Regions from separate parts of the Homo sapiens genome. Here region 2 is linked to region 1. The links come from fine-mapping of genetic effects on gene expression. A gene starts in region 1. The other region holds a variant in brackets. All regions are shown on one strand. Distances are between the middles of the regions.

The links.
Region 2: its variant is fine-mapped to the expression of RPS6KA4 in whole blood (INTERVAL, PIP above 0.99).

Annotation. Positions count from the first base shown.
Region 1 is chr11:64,354,121-64,362,439 of GRCh38, reverse strand. RPS6KA4 (ribosomal protein S6 kinase A4) reads right to left here and starts at 3,278. Exons shown (of 17, transcript NM_003942.3): 1 at 3,150-3,278; 2 at 2,991-3,062; 3 at 2,059-2,277; 4 at 1,848-1,963; 5 at 1,199-1,306; 6 at 891-971; 7 at 695-798; 8 at 438-588. The coding sequence starts at 3,204. It overlaps CCDC88B (coiled-coil domain containing 88B), which reads right to left. Exons shown (of 27, transcript NM_032251.6): 24 at 8,270-8,319; 25 at 7,040-7,246; 26 at 6,812-6,880; 27 at 4,906-5,401. The coding sequence ends at 5,346. RefSeq lists enhancers at 1,883-1,992, 2,726-3,253 and a silencer at 3,003-3,492.
Region 2 is chr11:64,385,751-64,394,069 of GRCh38, reverse strand. LOC124902688 (a long non-coding RNA gene) reads right to left here and starts at 6,963. Exons shown (of 2, transcript XR_007062718.1): 1 at 6,705-6,963; 2 at 3,757-3,944. The variant C/T (reference allele first, on the strand shown) is at 4,957.

The DNA of each region.
Region 1 (8,319 bases):
CTGTACAGGGACGGGGACAAAGAACAAAATGCCTGGGTGGGTGCTAAAAGCCATAAGTGTGGGTTTCCGTACTGATTTGGACCAGCAGGAGATCTATCTAGACCCAAGGTCTATTCCCAACTCGGCACCATTTACTGTGCCGTCGGGGGCAGGTCACCTGCCTTCTCTGGGTCTGTCCAGTGAAAGGACCGACCAATCCATTCTCAAATCCCTGACAGCCCCAACAGCCAATGAACCTAGAATCCTTTCTTTCAGGAACACATCTGCCAAGTTTCAGTGGGGATGGATGTGAAGAGAAACCTAGCTGACACACACTTGCTTTCTTTCTCTGGGGGGATTTCCAAATAAAGTGAAACTGGCCAGGCACAACCTCAACCTGGAACAGCAGCCCCACCTGGGTATGCACCAGGAGGTATGGGGCCCTGAGTCAGCCTCACCTGGAAGAAGGGATGGTTCCGGACTTCTTGTGCCCCCTGGGGCCCCGCGCCCAATCGCTTCTTAGGATCCTTACAAAGCAGCCGCTGCAGCAGGTCCTGCGCCACGGGCCCGATCCGAGGGGGGAAGGGAGGGGAGCACTTCAGGATCCGTCTGGGAGGATTGGGGGGGTGTCAGGGGCAGCAAGCCCCCCACCCACAGCCCTGCCCAGGCAGGCCCTGCAGCCCTCTGGCCGCCCTCCACGTCCAGCCCTACTCACCGAGACACCTCAGCCTGCGTGTTCCTCTCGCCCTCCAGGGTGAAGGGCGAGGCCCCCGTCAGCAGCTCGAAGAGCAAGATGCCCAGGCTCCACCAGTCCACAGCCTGCCGGGTGGAGCCGGGGTGAGGGCCTGCATCTCCCCTGCCTCACACCCCACCTTTCCACCTCCCCCAGCCCCACTTCCCTGCCAACCTACCTTGCCATGCCCCGTCTTGCTACGGATGATTTCGGGGGCCATGTACTCGATGGTGCCACAGAAGGAGAAGGTCCGCTCTTTCTGGGAGGGCAAGAGGTCCTGCTTAGATGTCGAAACCTCTCCTGTGCCCCAGTGCCCCACAAGGCCCAGAGTAAGACTCGCTCAACTTGTGAGGTTGGAGAGCTGAGCTGTGGAAACTTCTTGGAGCTATTCACTTCTGCAGCCCCAGAATGCAGGCCCAGAGCAGGAAGAGGCAGGAAGGAGAAGGATTGAATGGGGCACTGCAGGCAGAGGTGGCCTCCACTCACCTCCTCCGTCAGGAACTCCTTGCTCAGCCCGAAGTCCGTGAGGACAATGTGGCCCTCGGAGTCCAGCAGCACATTCTCCAGTTTCAGGTCTCGGTAAATGATGCCGAGCTGGTAGGAGCAAGAGGGGTGCTGAGGCTTCCTCCCCGAAACCCTCCCCAGCTCCTCCAGCTCCTGGCCCTGCTCAGGATAAGGAGACCCCCCAGAGAAAGTCATCTGCCTGTAGAGGGGGTCTCCAGGGCAGAGCCACTGAATAAGAAAGGCCATTTAAGATATAAAACAAAGAAGGAGGGCCCCGTGGATCAGGCCCCAAGGTCCCAGAGAGAGGAAAGTCTGTGTGAAGAGCTCCATTTCAAGGAGGCCTTAGGAGCCAGGCCGTGAGGTTTCCATTTGAGGAAGTTCTGTGAACGCAGCCCCGAGTTCCCTGAAAGAGGAAAGCCCCTTCGAGGAGGTGCCAGGGGAGGGGACCCCACCAGGCAACGTTGAGGCTTCCTGCAAGGGGTCCAGGGGAAGCAGCTCCAATTCCCACCCAGCTCACCACTGGCCCCCCAGGAAGCCCAGGGGGAAGCCTGAGGCTGCCCTGCGTGCAGATTCCTTCCAAGGCACAGACCCAGTTTCCATAGCAACAGCCTGCGGCCAGGTCTTCACCCACCTTGTGCAGGTGTTCCAGGGCCAGCACGATCTCACCCCCATACACGCGCACCTCAGCCTCCTTGAAGTACTGGCGCTGGTAGAGGTGGGTGAACATCTCCCCGCCGCTCACATAGTCTGGGAGGTGCAGTGGAAGTCAGGAAGCAGCCCCGTCAGGTGGCCTCGCCTGCCCCCAGCCACCCCAACCCCGTTGGGATGTGGTGTGCGCTCACCCAGGATGAGGTGCAGCTTGGCATCCGTCTGGAAAGCGTAGTGCAGCGTGACCAGGAAGGGCGCCTGGCGCACCAGCTCCAGCACCGAGCGCTCGGTGCGCGTGTGCTCTTGCGTCTTGGCGCGCTGCACCAGCGCCGCCTTGCGCAGCACCTTCATGGCGTACAGCTTCCCCGCGTCGTGCCCGCCCGCCTTCCGCACCAGGAACACCTTGCCGTAGGCTGTGGGAGCAGCGAGTGGGTGGAGGGTGGGCTGTGAGCGGGAGATTGGTGCAGGCTTGGGGGGTGGGGGCGATGCCAACCCAGGAGGGTGTGCAAATGAGGCGAAGGAGCTGGGGCAACAGGCAGGTGTGCAAAAAGCTGGCAGAGCCTTCTAAGGAAAGGGTGTGCACACCCCGGGAGGGTGCCCAGCAAAACCAGGGAAAGGATGTGCAAACCAGGCTGGGGAGCATGCATCTCCAGGGGGCCTGCTGCGAGGCATGGGGGCGGGGCATATGCAAACCTGCGAGAGATCAGATGGATGTGAAAAGATGCCAGTGCAAGGAAGGGAGGCAGAGGTGTGCACCTGGCTGGGGAAGGGATGCGCAAACCAGCGCTGGGGCATTTGCAAAATGTGGGAGGGGGATCCCATATTGGAAGAAAGGGAGGAGCTATGCAAATCACTTGAGAGGGGCGCCAGTCCCCCTCCCCAGGGTGTTGGCAAATCCAGGGGGGTATGCACGCACAGGACCGTGGAGGGAGGAGTGATGTCAATGTGGAGTGCCCTGGAAGTGGGCATGCAAACTCTGGCGAGGCAGGGCGGGGCAGGCAAGGCAGGCTGTGCCGGGAAAGGGTGGGGGGCCTGCTCAGTGGCCTGGCCCAGGCCCAAGAGTGAGCAGGCAGGAGGTCAGGGGCACCGCGCCTGGGACGCCTGCCCGGTGGATGGGGGTCCTCACCTCCCGTGCCCAGCACCTTGAGCAGCTCGAAGTTCTCCACGCTCACCTTCTCCTCGTGCCCGGTCAGGTTGGCTGTGGGCACAGGGGGCGAATGAGCCCAGCCGGTCCATGACCCGTCCCGGCCTGCCCCGGGCAGCCGCAGTCAGGCCCCACACCCACCTTCTGTGATCCGCAGCTCCACGGCGCAGCTCTCATCGTCGTCCTCGTCCCCCATGGCGGGCGGGTCGCTGGGGCCCGCGCGGCTCGGGCTCCGGGCGGCGCCGGTTACATGGCGGCTCCGGCCGGGGCGGGCGCTTCCTGGTGCCGCCTCCGGGGCCGAGGCGGGCGCCGGCACCGCCTCCCGGCTCCCCGCCCTGCGCGGCCTGAGTCAGGCGGCTGGAACGTGACAGCGCCGGGCTGCCGGTGGGCGGCCGGCTGGGGCCGCCCTGTCTCCCGAGCCCCCAGGCCAGGCCTCAGGGCCGTGCGCTCCGGGACCTTACTCGACTCTCCCGGGAACTGGAAACACCCCGTGGGAGCCATCCCTGAGCCCGTGGGTAACCTGGAGCCTCTGGGGCATTAGTCCCCAAGCCAGGAATCTGCCCGGGAATGCCGGCTGCAGCCAGTGGCTGGAGGACATTAGGAGTCTGTGCCCCAAGGTGGGGGACGAGGTGCCTGGTGCTGGGCAGGCTGAGAGGGGGTCTGGATCCTGGAAGTCACCCAACTCTCAGGCAGTGGAGCCCACCCCACTCCATCGTCCTGGGGGTGGCCAGCAGGGCCCCTCTCCCCAGAGGACTGGCCTTTGCAAGGAGGAGCCTCATCACCAAGAGGGGGCTGGAGCCCGGCCTGGGACCCCATGGCAAGGAGAGGAGTGGCCAGTTTTCTGACCAGCTTTCTGTCGGGGGTGCCTGCAGAAGCACTTCAGCCCCCAGTCACCGTGCAGAGCCCACCAGGTGCCATGCGCACCTCACGTGTTCTGCTCCTGTTGTCTCCTAGCCTGGTGCAGTACCCAGCTTAGAGCCCTGAGCAGGCCTCAAGAAGAGATGTCAGTGCCACACGGGGCTGCCCCCTCTCCCCATGAGGCCCAGGGCCCCTGCTGACTGGTCCTCCTGAGCCCCTGCTCCGTCTTCTTCCTGCCTTTCCCTTCCTGACCACCAATGGGGCCACCTAGCAGAGTGGGACAGCCATGAGGCCCCACACCCTGAGGCCGGTGGGAGGGGCTCTCAGCTCCTCTGCCAGCTGGAGAGGCCAGGGTGTCCACCCCACGCCCCTGTCCTGTGAAGCCCTGGCTGAGAGGAGGAGGAACTCAAGCTGCTGCAGGTCACACCTGGGAGGCCGGACGGACCGTCCCTCCCAGCTCTGCACCCCCCAAGTTCAGGCTGCCTTATCTCAGCCCTGGGCAGCTCCACCCTCCCCTGGGTGGCCCCAGGTACCCTGACTCACATCCTGCACCCCAGCCGAATTGCCCCGCCTCTCAGGCATCAGGCTAGAGGCCCTGGTCAGAGAGCCAGCGTCCCTCCCACCTCTCCTGGCAACCCCTGGCATTAAGTGATGCCCCGCCAGGCTGAGAACTCCCTGGGGAGGGGGCTCAACCTCAAGGAGGGAGGGGAGATGAGTAGGAGGAGGATGTGAACAGAGAGAAGACAGTGCCCTGGGAGAGGGTGGGGGCGGGGCAACAGGGGCTTCACTGCCCCACACCCCTGAGCCCAGATCTTAGACCCCAATCCCTGCTGGCTACCCAGGATGTCATCCCCTCTCCACCTCACCAGGACATCCGGGCTTTGGCCGGCCGGACTGGCCAAGACCCTGGAGAAAGGCCTGTGCTGCCCTGTCCAGGCAGGGGCCCTCTGCCCACAGACCCCCACCAACCAGCAGGACTGGGGCGGCATGTGTCCTGGTGCCCTGAGGTACCCAGTGCGGCCAACAGACAGAGCAAGACTCAGGAGGCTGCAGTTCAGCTTTATTCTCATGCCCCTCATGTCCAGTTAAGGCTCAAGATCAGCCCAGGCCACAGTCCCCCAGCACTGGGACTCAGCTTCCCACCTGGACAGGGCAGGGGGTTCTCTTGCCAACTCCTGCCAGCCTCCTTCAGCTGGGGGATCCCCCAGAGACCGCTGCCTCAGCGGGAGCCACCTGGAAGAACCAGAACTCCAGCCTGGAGCTGCTCGTGGGGGCCAGCCATCCCCCCTGTCCACACACTCGTCCCAGCTCCATCTCCGGGCCCCGGCGCTGACCGTGGAGGATCTCAGGGCCCAGGCCTCCTTGTCCAAGGACTCCCCTTGGGGTCCCTGGCTCCCTGAGCTCTTGGGCTGCCTGGGGCCTCCGCTGACACTCCAGTGCCGAGAAGGCTGCACTCCCAAGCCTGCTGTTCCCACGGTGTCACTGGCTGAGGGATGGGGTGAGGGGACGTTTCTCCGGTTCCTGTACCTCAGGGCCTAGAGGGAAAGGCTCAGCTGAGATCTGCTTCCCTCAGGAGGACTCCCAGAGTCCCAGGAGGCCCACAGGCTCGAGCACCTTCTGCCCACCCCCGACCTGCCAATACCCCCCGCTTCCAGCTGCACCACGCCTGCTGTTCCCTCAGCGGTTCCCTCTGCCCAGAATGCTGTTCTCAGGTATGTCCACACGACAAACTCTCCCCTCCAAGTCTTTGCTCCAATTTCACATCCTCTCTGAGGCCCACCCCAGCACCCCAGTTACTAAAACTCCAACCAGCCTGCCCAGAGCTCCTGAGCTCCTGACCCCTCCCCTGCTCTCCTTTCTTCCCAGAGCATTAGCGCCTCCTGATGGTCCAGCCGGGTCTAGGGCTGAGCTGCCCAGGGCGGAGCTAAGTAGGTGAGATGGGGTTGGCCTGTGACGTGCTTCAAAGACCTACTATGTTTTTTTGTTTTTTGTTTTTTGTTTTTGAGACAGTCTCACTCTGTCACCAACGCTGGAGTGCAATGGCGTGATCTTGGCTCACTGCACCCTCTGCCTCCCAGGTTCAAGCGATTCTCCTGCCTCAGCCCCCTGAGTAGGTGGGATTACAGGCATGGGACACCATGCCTGGCTAATTTTTGTAGTTTTAGTAGAGACGGGATTTCACCATTTTGGCTAGGCTGGTCTCTAACTTCTGGCCTCAAGTGATCTGCCTGCCTTGGCCTCCGAAACTGCCAAAGACTTACTATGAAAAAAATCACGTCTGGCTGGGTGGCTCACACCTATAATCCCAGCACTTTGGGAGGCTGAAGCGGGCGGATCACCTGAGGTCAGGAGTTCGAGACCAGCCTGACCAACATGGTGAAACCCCGTCTCTACTAAAAAAAATAATAATAATTATACAAAATTAGCCTGGCGTGGTGGCCCATGCCTGTAATCCCAGCTACTTGGGAGGCTGAGCCAGGAGAATCGTTTGAACCTGGGAGGAGGAGGTTGCAGTGAGCCAAAGAGTGAAATTCCATCTCAAAAAAAAAAAAAAAACATCACGTCTAATAGCTCATTCATGATTTTTACACTGGCTACATGCTGAAATGGTAATAGCGTAGGCATATTGAGTTAAATGTTATTAAAATCCATTGTACCTGTCTCTTTTCACTTTTTCTGGTAAGCCTACTGGAAAAGTTAAAATTATCATGTGGTTCACACCATATTTCTAGTGGACAGGGCTGTTGTAGATAATAATTATTTTTAGGCAAATTGTTTACTATCTGCCTCCTCACACCAGAACGTTCCCTGCTGTGTCCCCTGCCAGCACGTCACCTGGCACTTGGTAAAGGATCATTGTCGAATGAAAGAATGGATGAATGAGGTTCTGCCAGGGGCCCCAGGCAGGACAAAGAATACTACTCCTTCCACAGTCCCCCACTCACCCTCTCGGTTGGCATCTGTTTCGTGTTCCTGCAGGGTCTCAGCGGAGTTCTCCCATCCCACACCAGGTCCTGGGAGGCACAAGGCAACCACTGGGCCCAGGGCCAGTGCGGAAGTGGACAGAGCTTGCAGGAGACACAGGGGACAAGAAGGAAGCCTCCTCCCCCAAGGAGCTGGTGGGTCCACAAAGAGTTGGGGGGCTGGCTGGTACAGTGACCCTTGTCCCTCACCTTTGCTGTGGGAGACGGGCGCCCCCAGGGGGCCTGGATGGCGCTGTCGGAATCGTTGCCTAGGGGTGTCCCCAGGGCTGAATGACTCAGAGCTTCGCCCCACCGGGAACCTTGAGCTGAGTTTCCGCCGCTGCCCGCCTGCCAAGGTCTCATCCCGCAGGCAGAGGGAGCTCTGGGCCCGGCGCATGGGTGCCGGGGAAGGGGACCCTGCAAGAGGTACATGCAGGGAGGGGGTGAGAGGAGGGGACGGGAGCTGAGGCTCCTGTAGGGAGGAGGTCAGAGAATGGGGGGAGGCTGAGGCTCACGCAGGGAGGGGGTCAGACAAGGGGAGGGGGTGCTGAGGCTCCTGCAGGAAGGAGGTCAGAGAAGGGAAGTGGGGGCTGAGGCTCATGCACGGAGAGGGCCAGAGGAGGGGAGAGGGAGCTGAGGCTCATGCAGGGAGGGGGTCAGACGAGGGGAGCGGGGGGGCTGAGGCTCCTGCAGGGAGGAGGTCAGAGAAGGGAAGTGGGGGCTGAGGCTCATGCAGGGAGGGGGTCAGAGGAGGGGAGGAGGCTGAGGCTCATGCAGGGAGAGGGTCAGAGGAGGGGGGGAGGCTGAGGCTTATGCAGGGAGGGGGTCAGAGGAAGGGAACGGGGACTGAGTCTCATGCAGGGAGGGGGTCAGAAGAGGGGGCTGAGGTTCATGCAGGGGAGGGGTCAGAGGGGGGGGGCGGAGGCTCATGCAGGGAGGGGGTCAGAGGAACAGGGCCCTGGATGGAGTAGAGGGGCCAGTGGGTGAAGCTGCCCAGGGCCAGGGAGGGGAGGTGCAGAGGTGGGGGAGAAGCCAGGCAAATGAGTGGGGCAGCAGGACACTGGCCCTGTGCTGGCCTTCATACTAACTCACTGCATGACCTTGGGCAAAAGCTTCCCCTCCCGGGGCCTCAGTCTCCTCATCTGCAGTCTAGGAACAATGACCTCTCCCTAGAGTCCACTGCACCTCCCAGATCCTGGGCTCCGCTGCGGATGGGGCAGGCTGGGTCGGGGACAGCACAGGCAGGAGGGAGGTGTGGGCCAAGGGTGACCCTGTAGGACCCAGGGAAAAGAGCCCCTGGTGGCATCAGGGCAGGGGGGGCAGGCCTCAGGGAAGGCCAATGGGGTCACGCATGCAGGCCAGGCAGTGAGGCAGGTGCCAAGGTGGGGGACAGAGGATGTGGGGCAGGGACCATCCTGGCCACCTGACCCCCAGACCCACCTGTCCCATCTGCCTCCCTGCCCTCAGGAAGCTCCGTCTCCGGGGGGCCC
Region 2 (8,319 bases), 32 kb before region 1:
CTCCTGCAACTCAACGACAACACAAAAATCCAGTTAGAAAGTGTGCAAAGGGAGCTAGGCGTGGTAGCTCACACCTGTAATCCTAGCACTTTGGGAGGCTGAAGCGAGAGGATCACCTGAGGTCAGCAGTTTGAGACAAGCCTGGCCAACATGACAAAACCCTGTCTCTACTAAAAATACAAAAAAATTAGCTGTGTGTGGTGGCAGGCGCCTGTAATCCCAATTACTTGGGAGGCTGAGGCAGGAGAATCTCCTGAACCCAGTGGGGGGAGGTTGCCATGAGCCGAGATCATGCCACTTCACTCCAGCCTGGGCTAAAGAGCGAAGCTCCATAAAAAAAAAAAAAAAAAGAAAGAAAGTGTGCAAAGGACTTAAATAAAAATTTATCCTGGCTGGGCACAGCCAGGCACAACTACTCAGAAGGCCGAAGCAAAAGAATCACTTGAACCCTGGAGGCAGAGGTTGCAGTGAGCCAAGACTGTGTCACTGCACTCCAGCCTGGGCAACAGAGCAAGACCCTGTCTCTAAAAAAAAGAGAGAGGCCAGACGCGGTGGCTCATGCCTGTAATCCCAGCACTTTGGGAGGCCAAGGCAGGTGGATCACCTGAGGTCAGGAGTTCGAGAACAGCCTGACCAACACGGTGAAACCCCATCTCTACTAAAAATATAAAAATTAGCCAGGCGTGATGGCGCATGCCTGTAATCCCAACTACTGGGGAGGCTGAGGCAGGAGAATGACTTGAACCCAGGAGGTGGAGGTTGCAGTGAGCCGAGATCAGGCCACTGCGCTCCAGCCTGGGCGGCAGAGAGAGACTCTGTCTCAAAAAAAAAAAAAAAAAAAAGAATTAGGGACAGTGTCAAGTCCGTCCATTCTGGCCACAGTGTCCAACTTCAGGGACAGTAGGTGGCTTTTGGGGCACAGAGCCAGAGGCTGCAGTGGGGCCAGGCGTGGCACCCAGTGTTCAATGGTGGCAGCGGCCGATCGCTCCCGTGGCCTGACTTTGCCTCGGGTTCTGGGAGCTGCACCCTGTTTCTGTGGTTCTCCAGCCTTCCTGGTACCTCCTGAATCCCTTCCAGCCCCCATGGATAAAGTTAAGTGCCTCCCTCTCATGTGCTCCCTGGAACCACCTCCCTCGCGGCCTCATCAGCTAAGGTCTTTGTCCCCACACCACATGAGCACCCACTGAGGGCAGGGACAAAGCTTCATCTTGTCCACTTCTCTATCCCTGGGCCCAGCTCCAGCCTTACATGTAGAGAAAGTTCTCGTTGTGAGTGAATGCATGGCTCTTTGGAAACAGAAACAGAACCAGGAAAGGATTGACCCAAAGTCCGCTGCAGAGATTGAGCTCCCCCAGCCCCAACAGGGCCCCCCGCTACAGAGGCCTGGGGAACAACCCCAGAAGGGAAATCAGGAACCAGCCCGGGAATGGAATGTCCTAGATCTACCTGAGATCAGGACCCTCCTCCCCTTCCCAGCATGCAGTGACCTGCAAGAGTCACACAGGAGGGAGTCCTGGGACCATTCTCCCTCCTAGAAAAAAACCCTAAAAGACAAAGCTGTAGCAACTGCCTTAGAAGGACAGGCTGAGTGGCCGGGCGCGGTGGCTCATGCCTGTAATCCCAGCACTTTGGGAGGCCGAGGCAGGCAGATCACCTGAGGTCGGGAGTTCAAGACCAGCCTGACCAACATGGAGAAACCCCGTCTCTACTAAAAATACAAAAATTAGCTGGGCGTGGTAGCAGGTGCCTGTAATCCCAGCTATTTGGGAGGCTGAGGCAGGAGAATCGCTTGAACCTGGGAGGCGGAGGTTGCAGTGAGGGGAGATCACAGCACTGCACTCTCCAGAGCCTGGGCAATAGAACGAGACTCCGTCTCAAGGAAAAAAAAAAAAAAAACAGGCTGAGCTCCCTGGCTTGTGGGGAGAGAGCAAGGGGCCTGCCCAGAGCTGAGTGATCTGGGATGATGGGTGCAAGGGAAGATGACCTCCCTGCAAATTAATGAGGCAGCTTTCTGTTCATAAACCACCTGCCATGACAAGCCTGGCCTGTTCCCAAGACAATGTCCAGGCTCAGAGCAAGCCAGATCCAGAACAGTTTCCAAACTACATTCCAGGGAACCCCAGTGCTCCACAGGCATTGCTGGGTGTGCCATGGGGAGCCTTGAATTAAACACATATAACAATGCAGGACTCCTCAGAGCATTTAATGCGCTGAGGCCCTTGATGACTTTCCAAGAGGCAGCACAGTACACGGCTGATGACAACATTTTTGCTGAGCATCTATCATAAACTTCCAACCTCCTTGAGCTCCAAGGAACATAGCTTGCAAATGCTGCTGTGGGCAGCACCCCACTACCTGCCACTGAGAAACTGAGGTCCCATCTCTTAAGTCTCACTCCCACCCTCTGCTGGGGGCAGTGGGGAGCCAACCTGTCCTCCCCTTGCGGGGCTCTGCACACATTGCACACGTCTCCCTCTGGGGAAAGGGGTGCCAAGGAACTTCTGGGCCAGCTGAGCCAAAATACAGACTTGGAGTGTGAACTGGCCAAGTCACTGCCTCCTCCCTGAGGGTCCCTCCCTTTGGCACCCGCCACCTTATCTCCAGAGAGGCCACCGTGGCACAGAGCCCCAGGCTCCACAGGTGGCTACTGACCGTCACCCACCTCTGGGCCAAGTCCACTCTCTTTTTGTTTTCTTTTCTTTTCTTTTTTTTTTTTTTTTTTTTTTTTTTTGAGACAGAGTCTTGCTCTGCCCCCCAGGCTGGAGTGCAGTGGTGCAATCGCAGCTCACCGCAACCTCCACCCACTGGGCTCATGTGGTTTTCCTGCCTCAGCCTCCCAAGTAGCTGGGACTACAGGCGCGGGCCACCACTAAATCTTTGTATTTTTTTAGTAGAGATGGGGTTTCACCATGTTGGCCAGGCTGCTCTCGAACTCCTGACCTCAATTCATCCACCTGCCTCGGCCTCCCTAAATGTTGGGATTACAGGTGTGAGCCACCACACCCGGCCCCAAGTCCACTCTCATTCTTGCCCTGCCCCCTGTGGGCCACAGGACAGCCCTCTGTAGTAACCACTGAAGTCTGGTAAATGAACAACCTCAGCCCCTTGGAAGTCCCAAGAGATCCCAGCAGCTTCCCCTGCCTTGTCACCGCACCTGAAGAATGGTGGTGTGTGGTGGAAGGAGTACAGCCCTGCTCTGGGCCATCGGCTACCTGCATGTCCCCTCTGCTGGAGCCACAGGCCCCTCTGTTGGGCCAGTGTCCACATCCCACACCACAGCCAGGCCAGGCTTCTTTAGAAGCTCCCCATCACTGAGCCAACTTCCTCTGCCAGTTACACATATCACCCAGATGGGGTGATTTCTTACTGCAGAACACTTTGTTAATTGACACACCATTGAACTGAGCTGATGACTCCCGTGACTTGGTATCCTTAGTCCCTGATATGTTTTGGCTGTGTCCCCACCCAAATCTCATCTTGAATTGTAGTTTCCATAATCCCCACATGTAGTGGGAGGGACCTGGTGGGAGGTAATTGAATCATGGTGGTGGTTACCCCCATGCTATTCTCATAATAGTGAGTGAGTTCTCATGAGATTTGATGGTTCTATAAGGGGCTTTCCATCTTTGCTCATTCTTCTCTCTCCTGCTGCCCTGTGAAGAAGGACGTGTTTGCTTTCCCTTCTCTCATTATTGTAAGTTTCCTGAGGCCTCCCCAGCTCTGGGAACTGTGAGTCAATTAAACCTTTTTCCTTTGTAAATTACAGAGTCTCAGGTATGTCTTTATTAACAGTATGAGAACAGACTAATACAGTACCAATATCTTTTCCTGATTCACTCATGGCACCTGAAGATGGGAAGAAGTAGCACAGACACAGCTGTGATTTCCGGCCCCTCTATGAGCTGCATGCTGACCCTTGGACATGAAGATTCTCTCTCTTGGCTCTGGAAGGTGCCAAGAAATAAAATGATAAATGGAGATGCAGCCTGGCTAAAGGACAGTTCAGCAGTAGGGTGGACTTCAGGGTTGGTTCGATCCAGCAGCTCAGCTGTGTCCTCAGGACTTGACCTCTTCCCTCTCTCCTCTGTCATCCATAGCCTCAGCTGGACCCTGAGGTATGGTGTCCTTGGGGTGACAGGCTGGCTGCCAGCTGCCATTAGGGCTAGGTGCTTCCTCATCTGTGACCAGCAGAAATGGGTGAGCATCTATCCCAGCATCCCGTGCATTCCAGCAACTGACCTAGAGCAAGCTTGGAGGGACCAGAAAGCACAAGTGGGAGGAACAGGAGCTGGGTAAGCTACACACACTACACAAAATCACAGATCAAAGCCACTTGGTCCTGGGCCAGGCTCAGAGTCCATGCTCAAATATCAGCTACCACTTTTATTCTATGTAAGTCAATATTTGGGCTAATAATGAGCCCATCTTCCCTTGAAGCTAACAGTCTAAGGGATGGTGAGATGACATAAAAAGACACCTGGAGTCTCCACCAATGACTGGCCTCATCATCACATGCAAGACCTCCCCGTACCTTCTCCATCTGCAAAATGAGGGTTAAAATATCTCCTCACCAAACTCACAGGAGAAATCATGCTTTATAAATGCAGAGATGTTGGCCATGAGGCTTCTGATCCTTGCTACAGGCTTTCAGATCTTTATTCTGAGCATTGGCAACAACACGTTTCTGAGAACATCTCCTTTGGCAAATGGTAGGTCAGGCAGAGCTGCTTCAACAGAAGATGTTTTTGCTTTCAAAAAAAAAAAATTGTGTATGCCTTTTAATCCAAATGGCTGAATTGCTGATTCAATCAGCAAACATGGAACAGACTGAGAAAGTGCAGCGTGAGCTCCGAGACAGCAAAGAGGGCCATGAACTTCAAGGATGTTTATGGAGCGATTGCTGAAACCAGCTTTCTGAAGAGGTAAGTCTCCACCAGGCAACAGGGAGGCACGATG[C/T]GGGAGTGCCGTGGGATTTACGATGTTCATTAAGTCCATCAGCTTCCAACTCCCTCTGCAACCTGCATGTCCAGCTCGGCTACCCGGGGCACAAACAAGCTCTCCAGCTAAATTACCAAGATTCTTAGTGCCCGGCTGCACACCCACAGAGCACAGCCCACCTCAGCACCTGCCACCCCTGGGGATTCCAGGGCATGTTGAGTGTCTCCCACATGCTCAGGTCCAAGCCCACACCTGGCTTCCACCTGGCCCCATCCTCTCTGCATCCCCTGCTTCTGCTGGCCTCCAGTGTTCCCAGGCTGCCAGTCCTAGAGAGTCAAGGTTAGGCTAGGGTTGGGGCAGAAACACACGACTTTGTGCTGTCCCATAGCTGCACTGTTCTTTGTCACCCAGGCCAGAAGGGACACTGCCTGAGCCCAGAAGTTTGCTACCACTCCCAGAAACAGATCCCCAGGCCCCAGCCCAGCCGTCACTTCGCAGCATCCACCTCCACCATTCTTGCTGCCCCTTCCCCTCCCAGGGCACCTCTGCACCAAACGACTTCATTCTCCTCCTCCAGTTCTGAGAGATAAAACCAGCGGGCATGCCCGTTCCTGCAAACAGGACCAAGCCAACACAAGGCCCCCAGGCCCACAAAAAGCAGGCTCTGTTCCCAGTACAGATGCCTCAGGGACACCCTGCTATATCCATGTCAAACTTCCCTTTATTCATGAATAGAGATGGGAAGTGAGGCATCAGGTGTGCTCAAAAGCTTTGCTATCGGTTAAGAATTGCACCTGGCTACAAGCTACAGAGAATCAAAATAACAGTGGCTATAATAAGGGAGAGGTTAAATTTTGCTCTCATGTGAAAAGAAGTCTAGAGTTAGCCAGCCCAGGGTTGATACAGCAGGTCCACAGCCATCAGTGACCCAGGCTCATTCTATCTTGCTCTCTGCCATCATTAACATGAGGCTCCCATCCTTGGGGCTACCTCATGATCCCAAAATGGCTACTGCAGCTCCAGACATCACATCCACATTTCAGGCAGCAGAGAGTAGGAAGGGGCAAGGCAAAAGGACATGCCTCTCAGCTTAGCCTCCTTTGGAGAGCTTTCCCAGAAACCATACTCAATAACCTTTGCTTACATCTTATAGGCCTATTTCTGAAAGGCTAGGAAATGTGATATTATAAAAAGCCCATTGACACCCAACACTATAGCTTTTGTGTTGCTAAGGAAGCTAAGGAAGACAGGAGTATAGAAAATACCAGCCTTGGCCATACTTTTTTTTTTTTTTTTTTTTTTTTTGAGACAGAGTCTCGCTCTTCCGCCCAGGCTGGAGTGCAGTGGCACGATCTCGGCTCATTGCAACCTCCACCTCCCAAGTTCAAGTGATTCTCCTGCCTCAGCCTCCAGAGTAGCTGGGATTACAGGCATGCACCACTATGCCTGGCTAATTTTTGTATTTTTGGTAGAGACAGGATTACACATGTTAACCAGGCTGGTATGGAACACCTGGCCTCAAGCGATCCGCCCACCTTGGCCTCCCAAAATGCCAGGATTACAGGCATAAGCCACTGCACCTGGCCAGCCATACTTTCTACAGAGCTAATAAAACTAAGAGGATAGGGGCCCAAACTAATCTCCCTCCTGGATGCTTGTGGAGAATAATACAACAGTGATTATGACATCAAAAAAGAGGAGGCAAAGTGTCAGATGTTCTCAGCCCATTCTACACCTGGGATGCAGCACTGTTTTGTGGTGCTTACCTTAACAAATCTGCTATCATATTCCGCTGCTGACAGCCGGTGGTCTACTGGGACCTCAGCGTCTTCATCTCTTGAGTGTTCACACAATTGATTCCTCCTCACCCATCTTTCATTTGTGTTCTTTGCTTTTCTCCTTGAAACAGTTTAATTTCATGGGCTGCATGATGATGTTTTGGACAGTGTGGGACCATATATTCCATGGTGGTCCTATAGGATTATAATGGAGGCTGGGTGTGGTGGCTCACACCTATAGTCCTGGCACTTTGGGAAGCTGAGGTGGCCAGATCACTTCAGGCCAGGAGTTCGATACCAGCCTGGCTAACATGGTTGGGACTTGGGAGGCCAAAGCAGGAGGATTGCTTGAAGCGAGGAGTTTGACTACAGCCTGGGCAACATAGCAAGAGGTTGTCTGTATGCTTTTATTTTTTGAAAGAAAGGAAGGAAGGAAGGAAGGAAGGAAGGAAGGGAGGGAGGGAGGGAGGGAGGGAGGGAGGGAGGGAGGGAGGGAAAGAAAGAAAGAAAGAAAGAAAAGAAAAATAACAAAAATAAAAGATTATAAGGGAGCTGAAAAATTTTTCTCATCTAGTGATGTCATTCATAGCCATCATATCATCATAGTGCAATGTGCCACCTTTTCTATGATTAGATACATTTAGATACGCAAATACCATTCTATTCCAATTGCCTCTGCTACTCAGCACTTCCTGCCATACAGGCTTGTGGTGTGGGAGCAATCAGCTGTACCATCTAGCCTAGCTGTGTTGCGGGCTACCCATCCAGGTTTGTGTAAGTGCACTCTGATGTTCACACAGTGATGAAATCACCTAACAATGCATTTCTCAGAACGTGTCCCCATGGCTAAGTGACTCATGGCTGTATTCTGGAATCTTGTCATTCCAGACCACAGTCTTCACATTGAGGTACCAAGTTGTGGATCAGAATGGAAAGCTAGGCTATGATGAGGGACAGTGCGCTGTCACATGACTGACATGATTTATTTCACAAAGACAGCAAATGGAGCTGCCATGCCACCTCCAGCAAAGAGAGCCCGGGGCTGGCGTCTATGGAGCTCTAGGCTCTGCAGAGTCGGAGCGAGAACCAGATCCTTGGGGCAAAGAGAGCTAAAACGGATTGCAGAGGAAAGCGAACCACCACACATCTGCTAGAAAGAAATATCTCTTAGGCAGGAGATAACCTTGAGAGGCAGCATAACCGCTCAACCACTGTGGTTAAGGGCTTAGTTCTCAAGTAGGGAGGCCCAGGCTCTAGGGCCAATGCCTGTGGATGCCTTTGTGTGACCTTGGACAATTTACTTTCTCTCTCCAAGCCTCATTTTCTTCATCCACAACATGGAAACAATTGCAGATGATGATAATGTAGAACCTGTTCATGAAAGGAAATTATAGACAGTGCTGGGCCCGGTGCCTGGCTCCTGGTACAGAGAAGGATTCAGTAATAACATTGGCCATGACTATTAACAACAGCAGCAGCAGGGATCCTATGTGTGACCTTCTACCTGTGTGGCACAGGGCCTGGCACATCATGAGGCTCAATAAATGGGCTCAACGTCATCGCTACTCTTGTTGTTATTAAAGGAAATAGCCAGAAAGTGCTT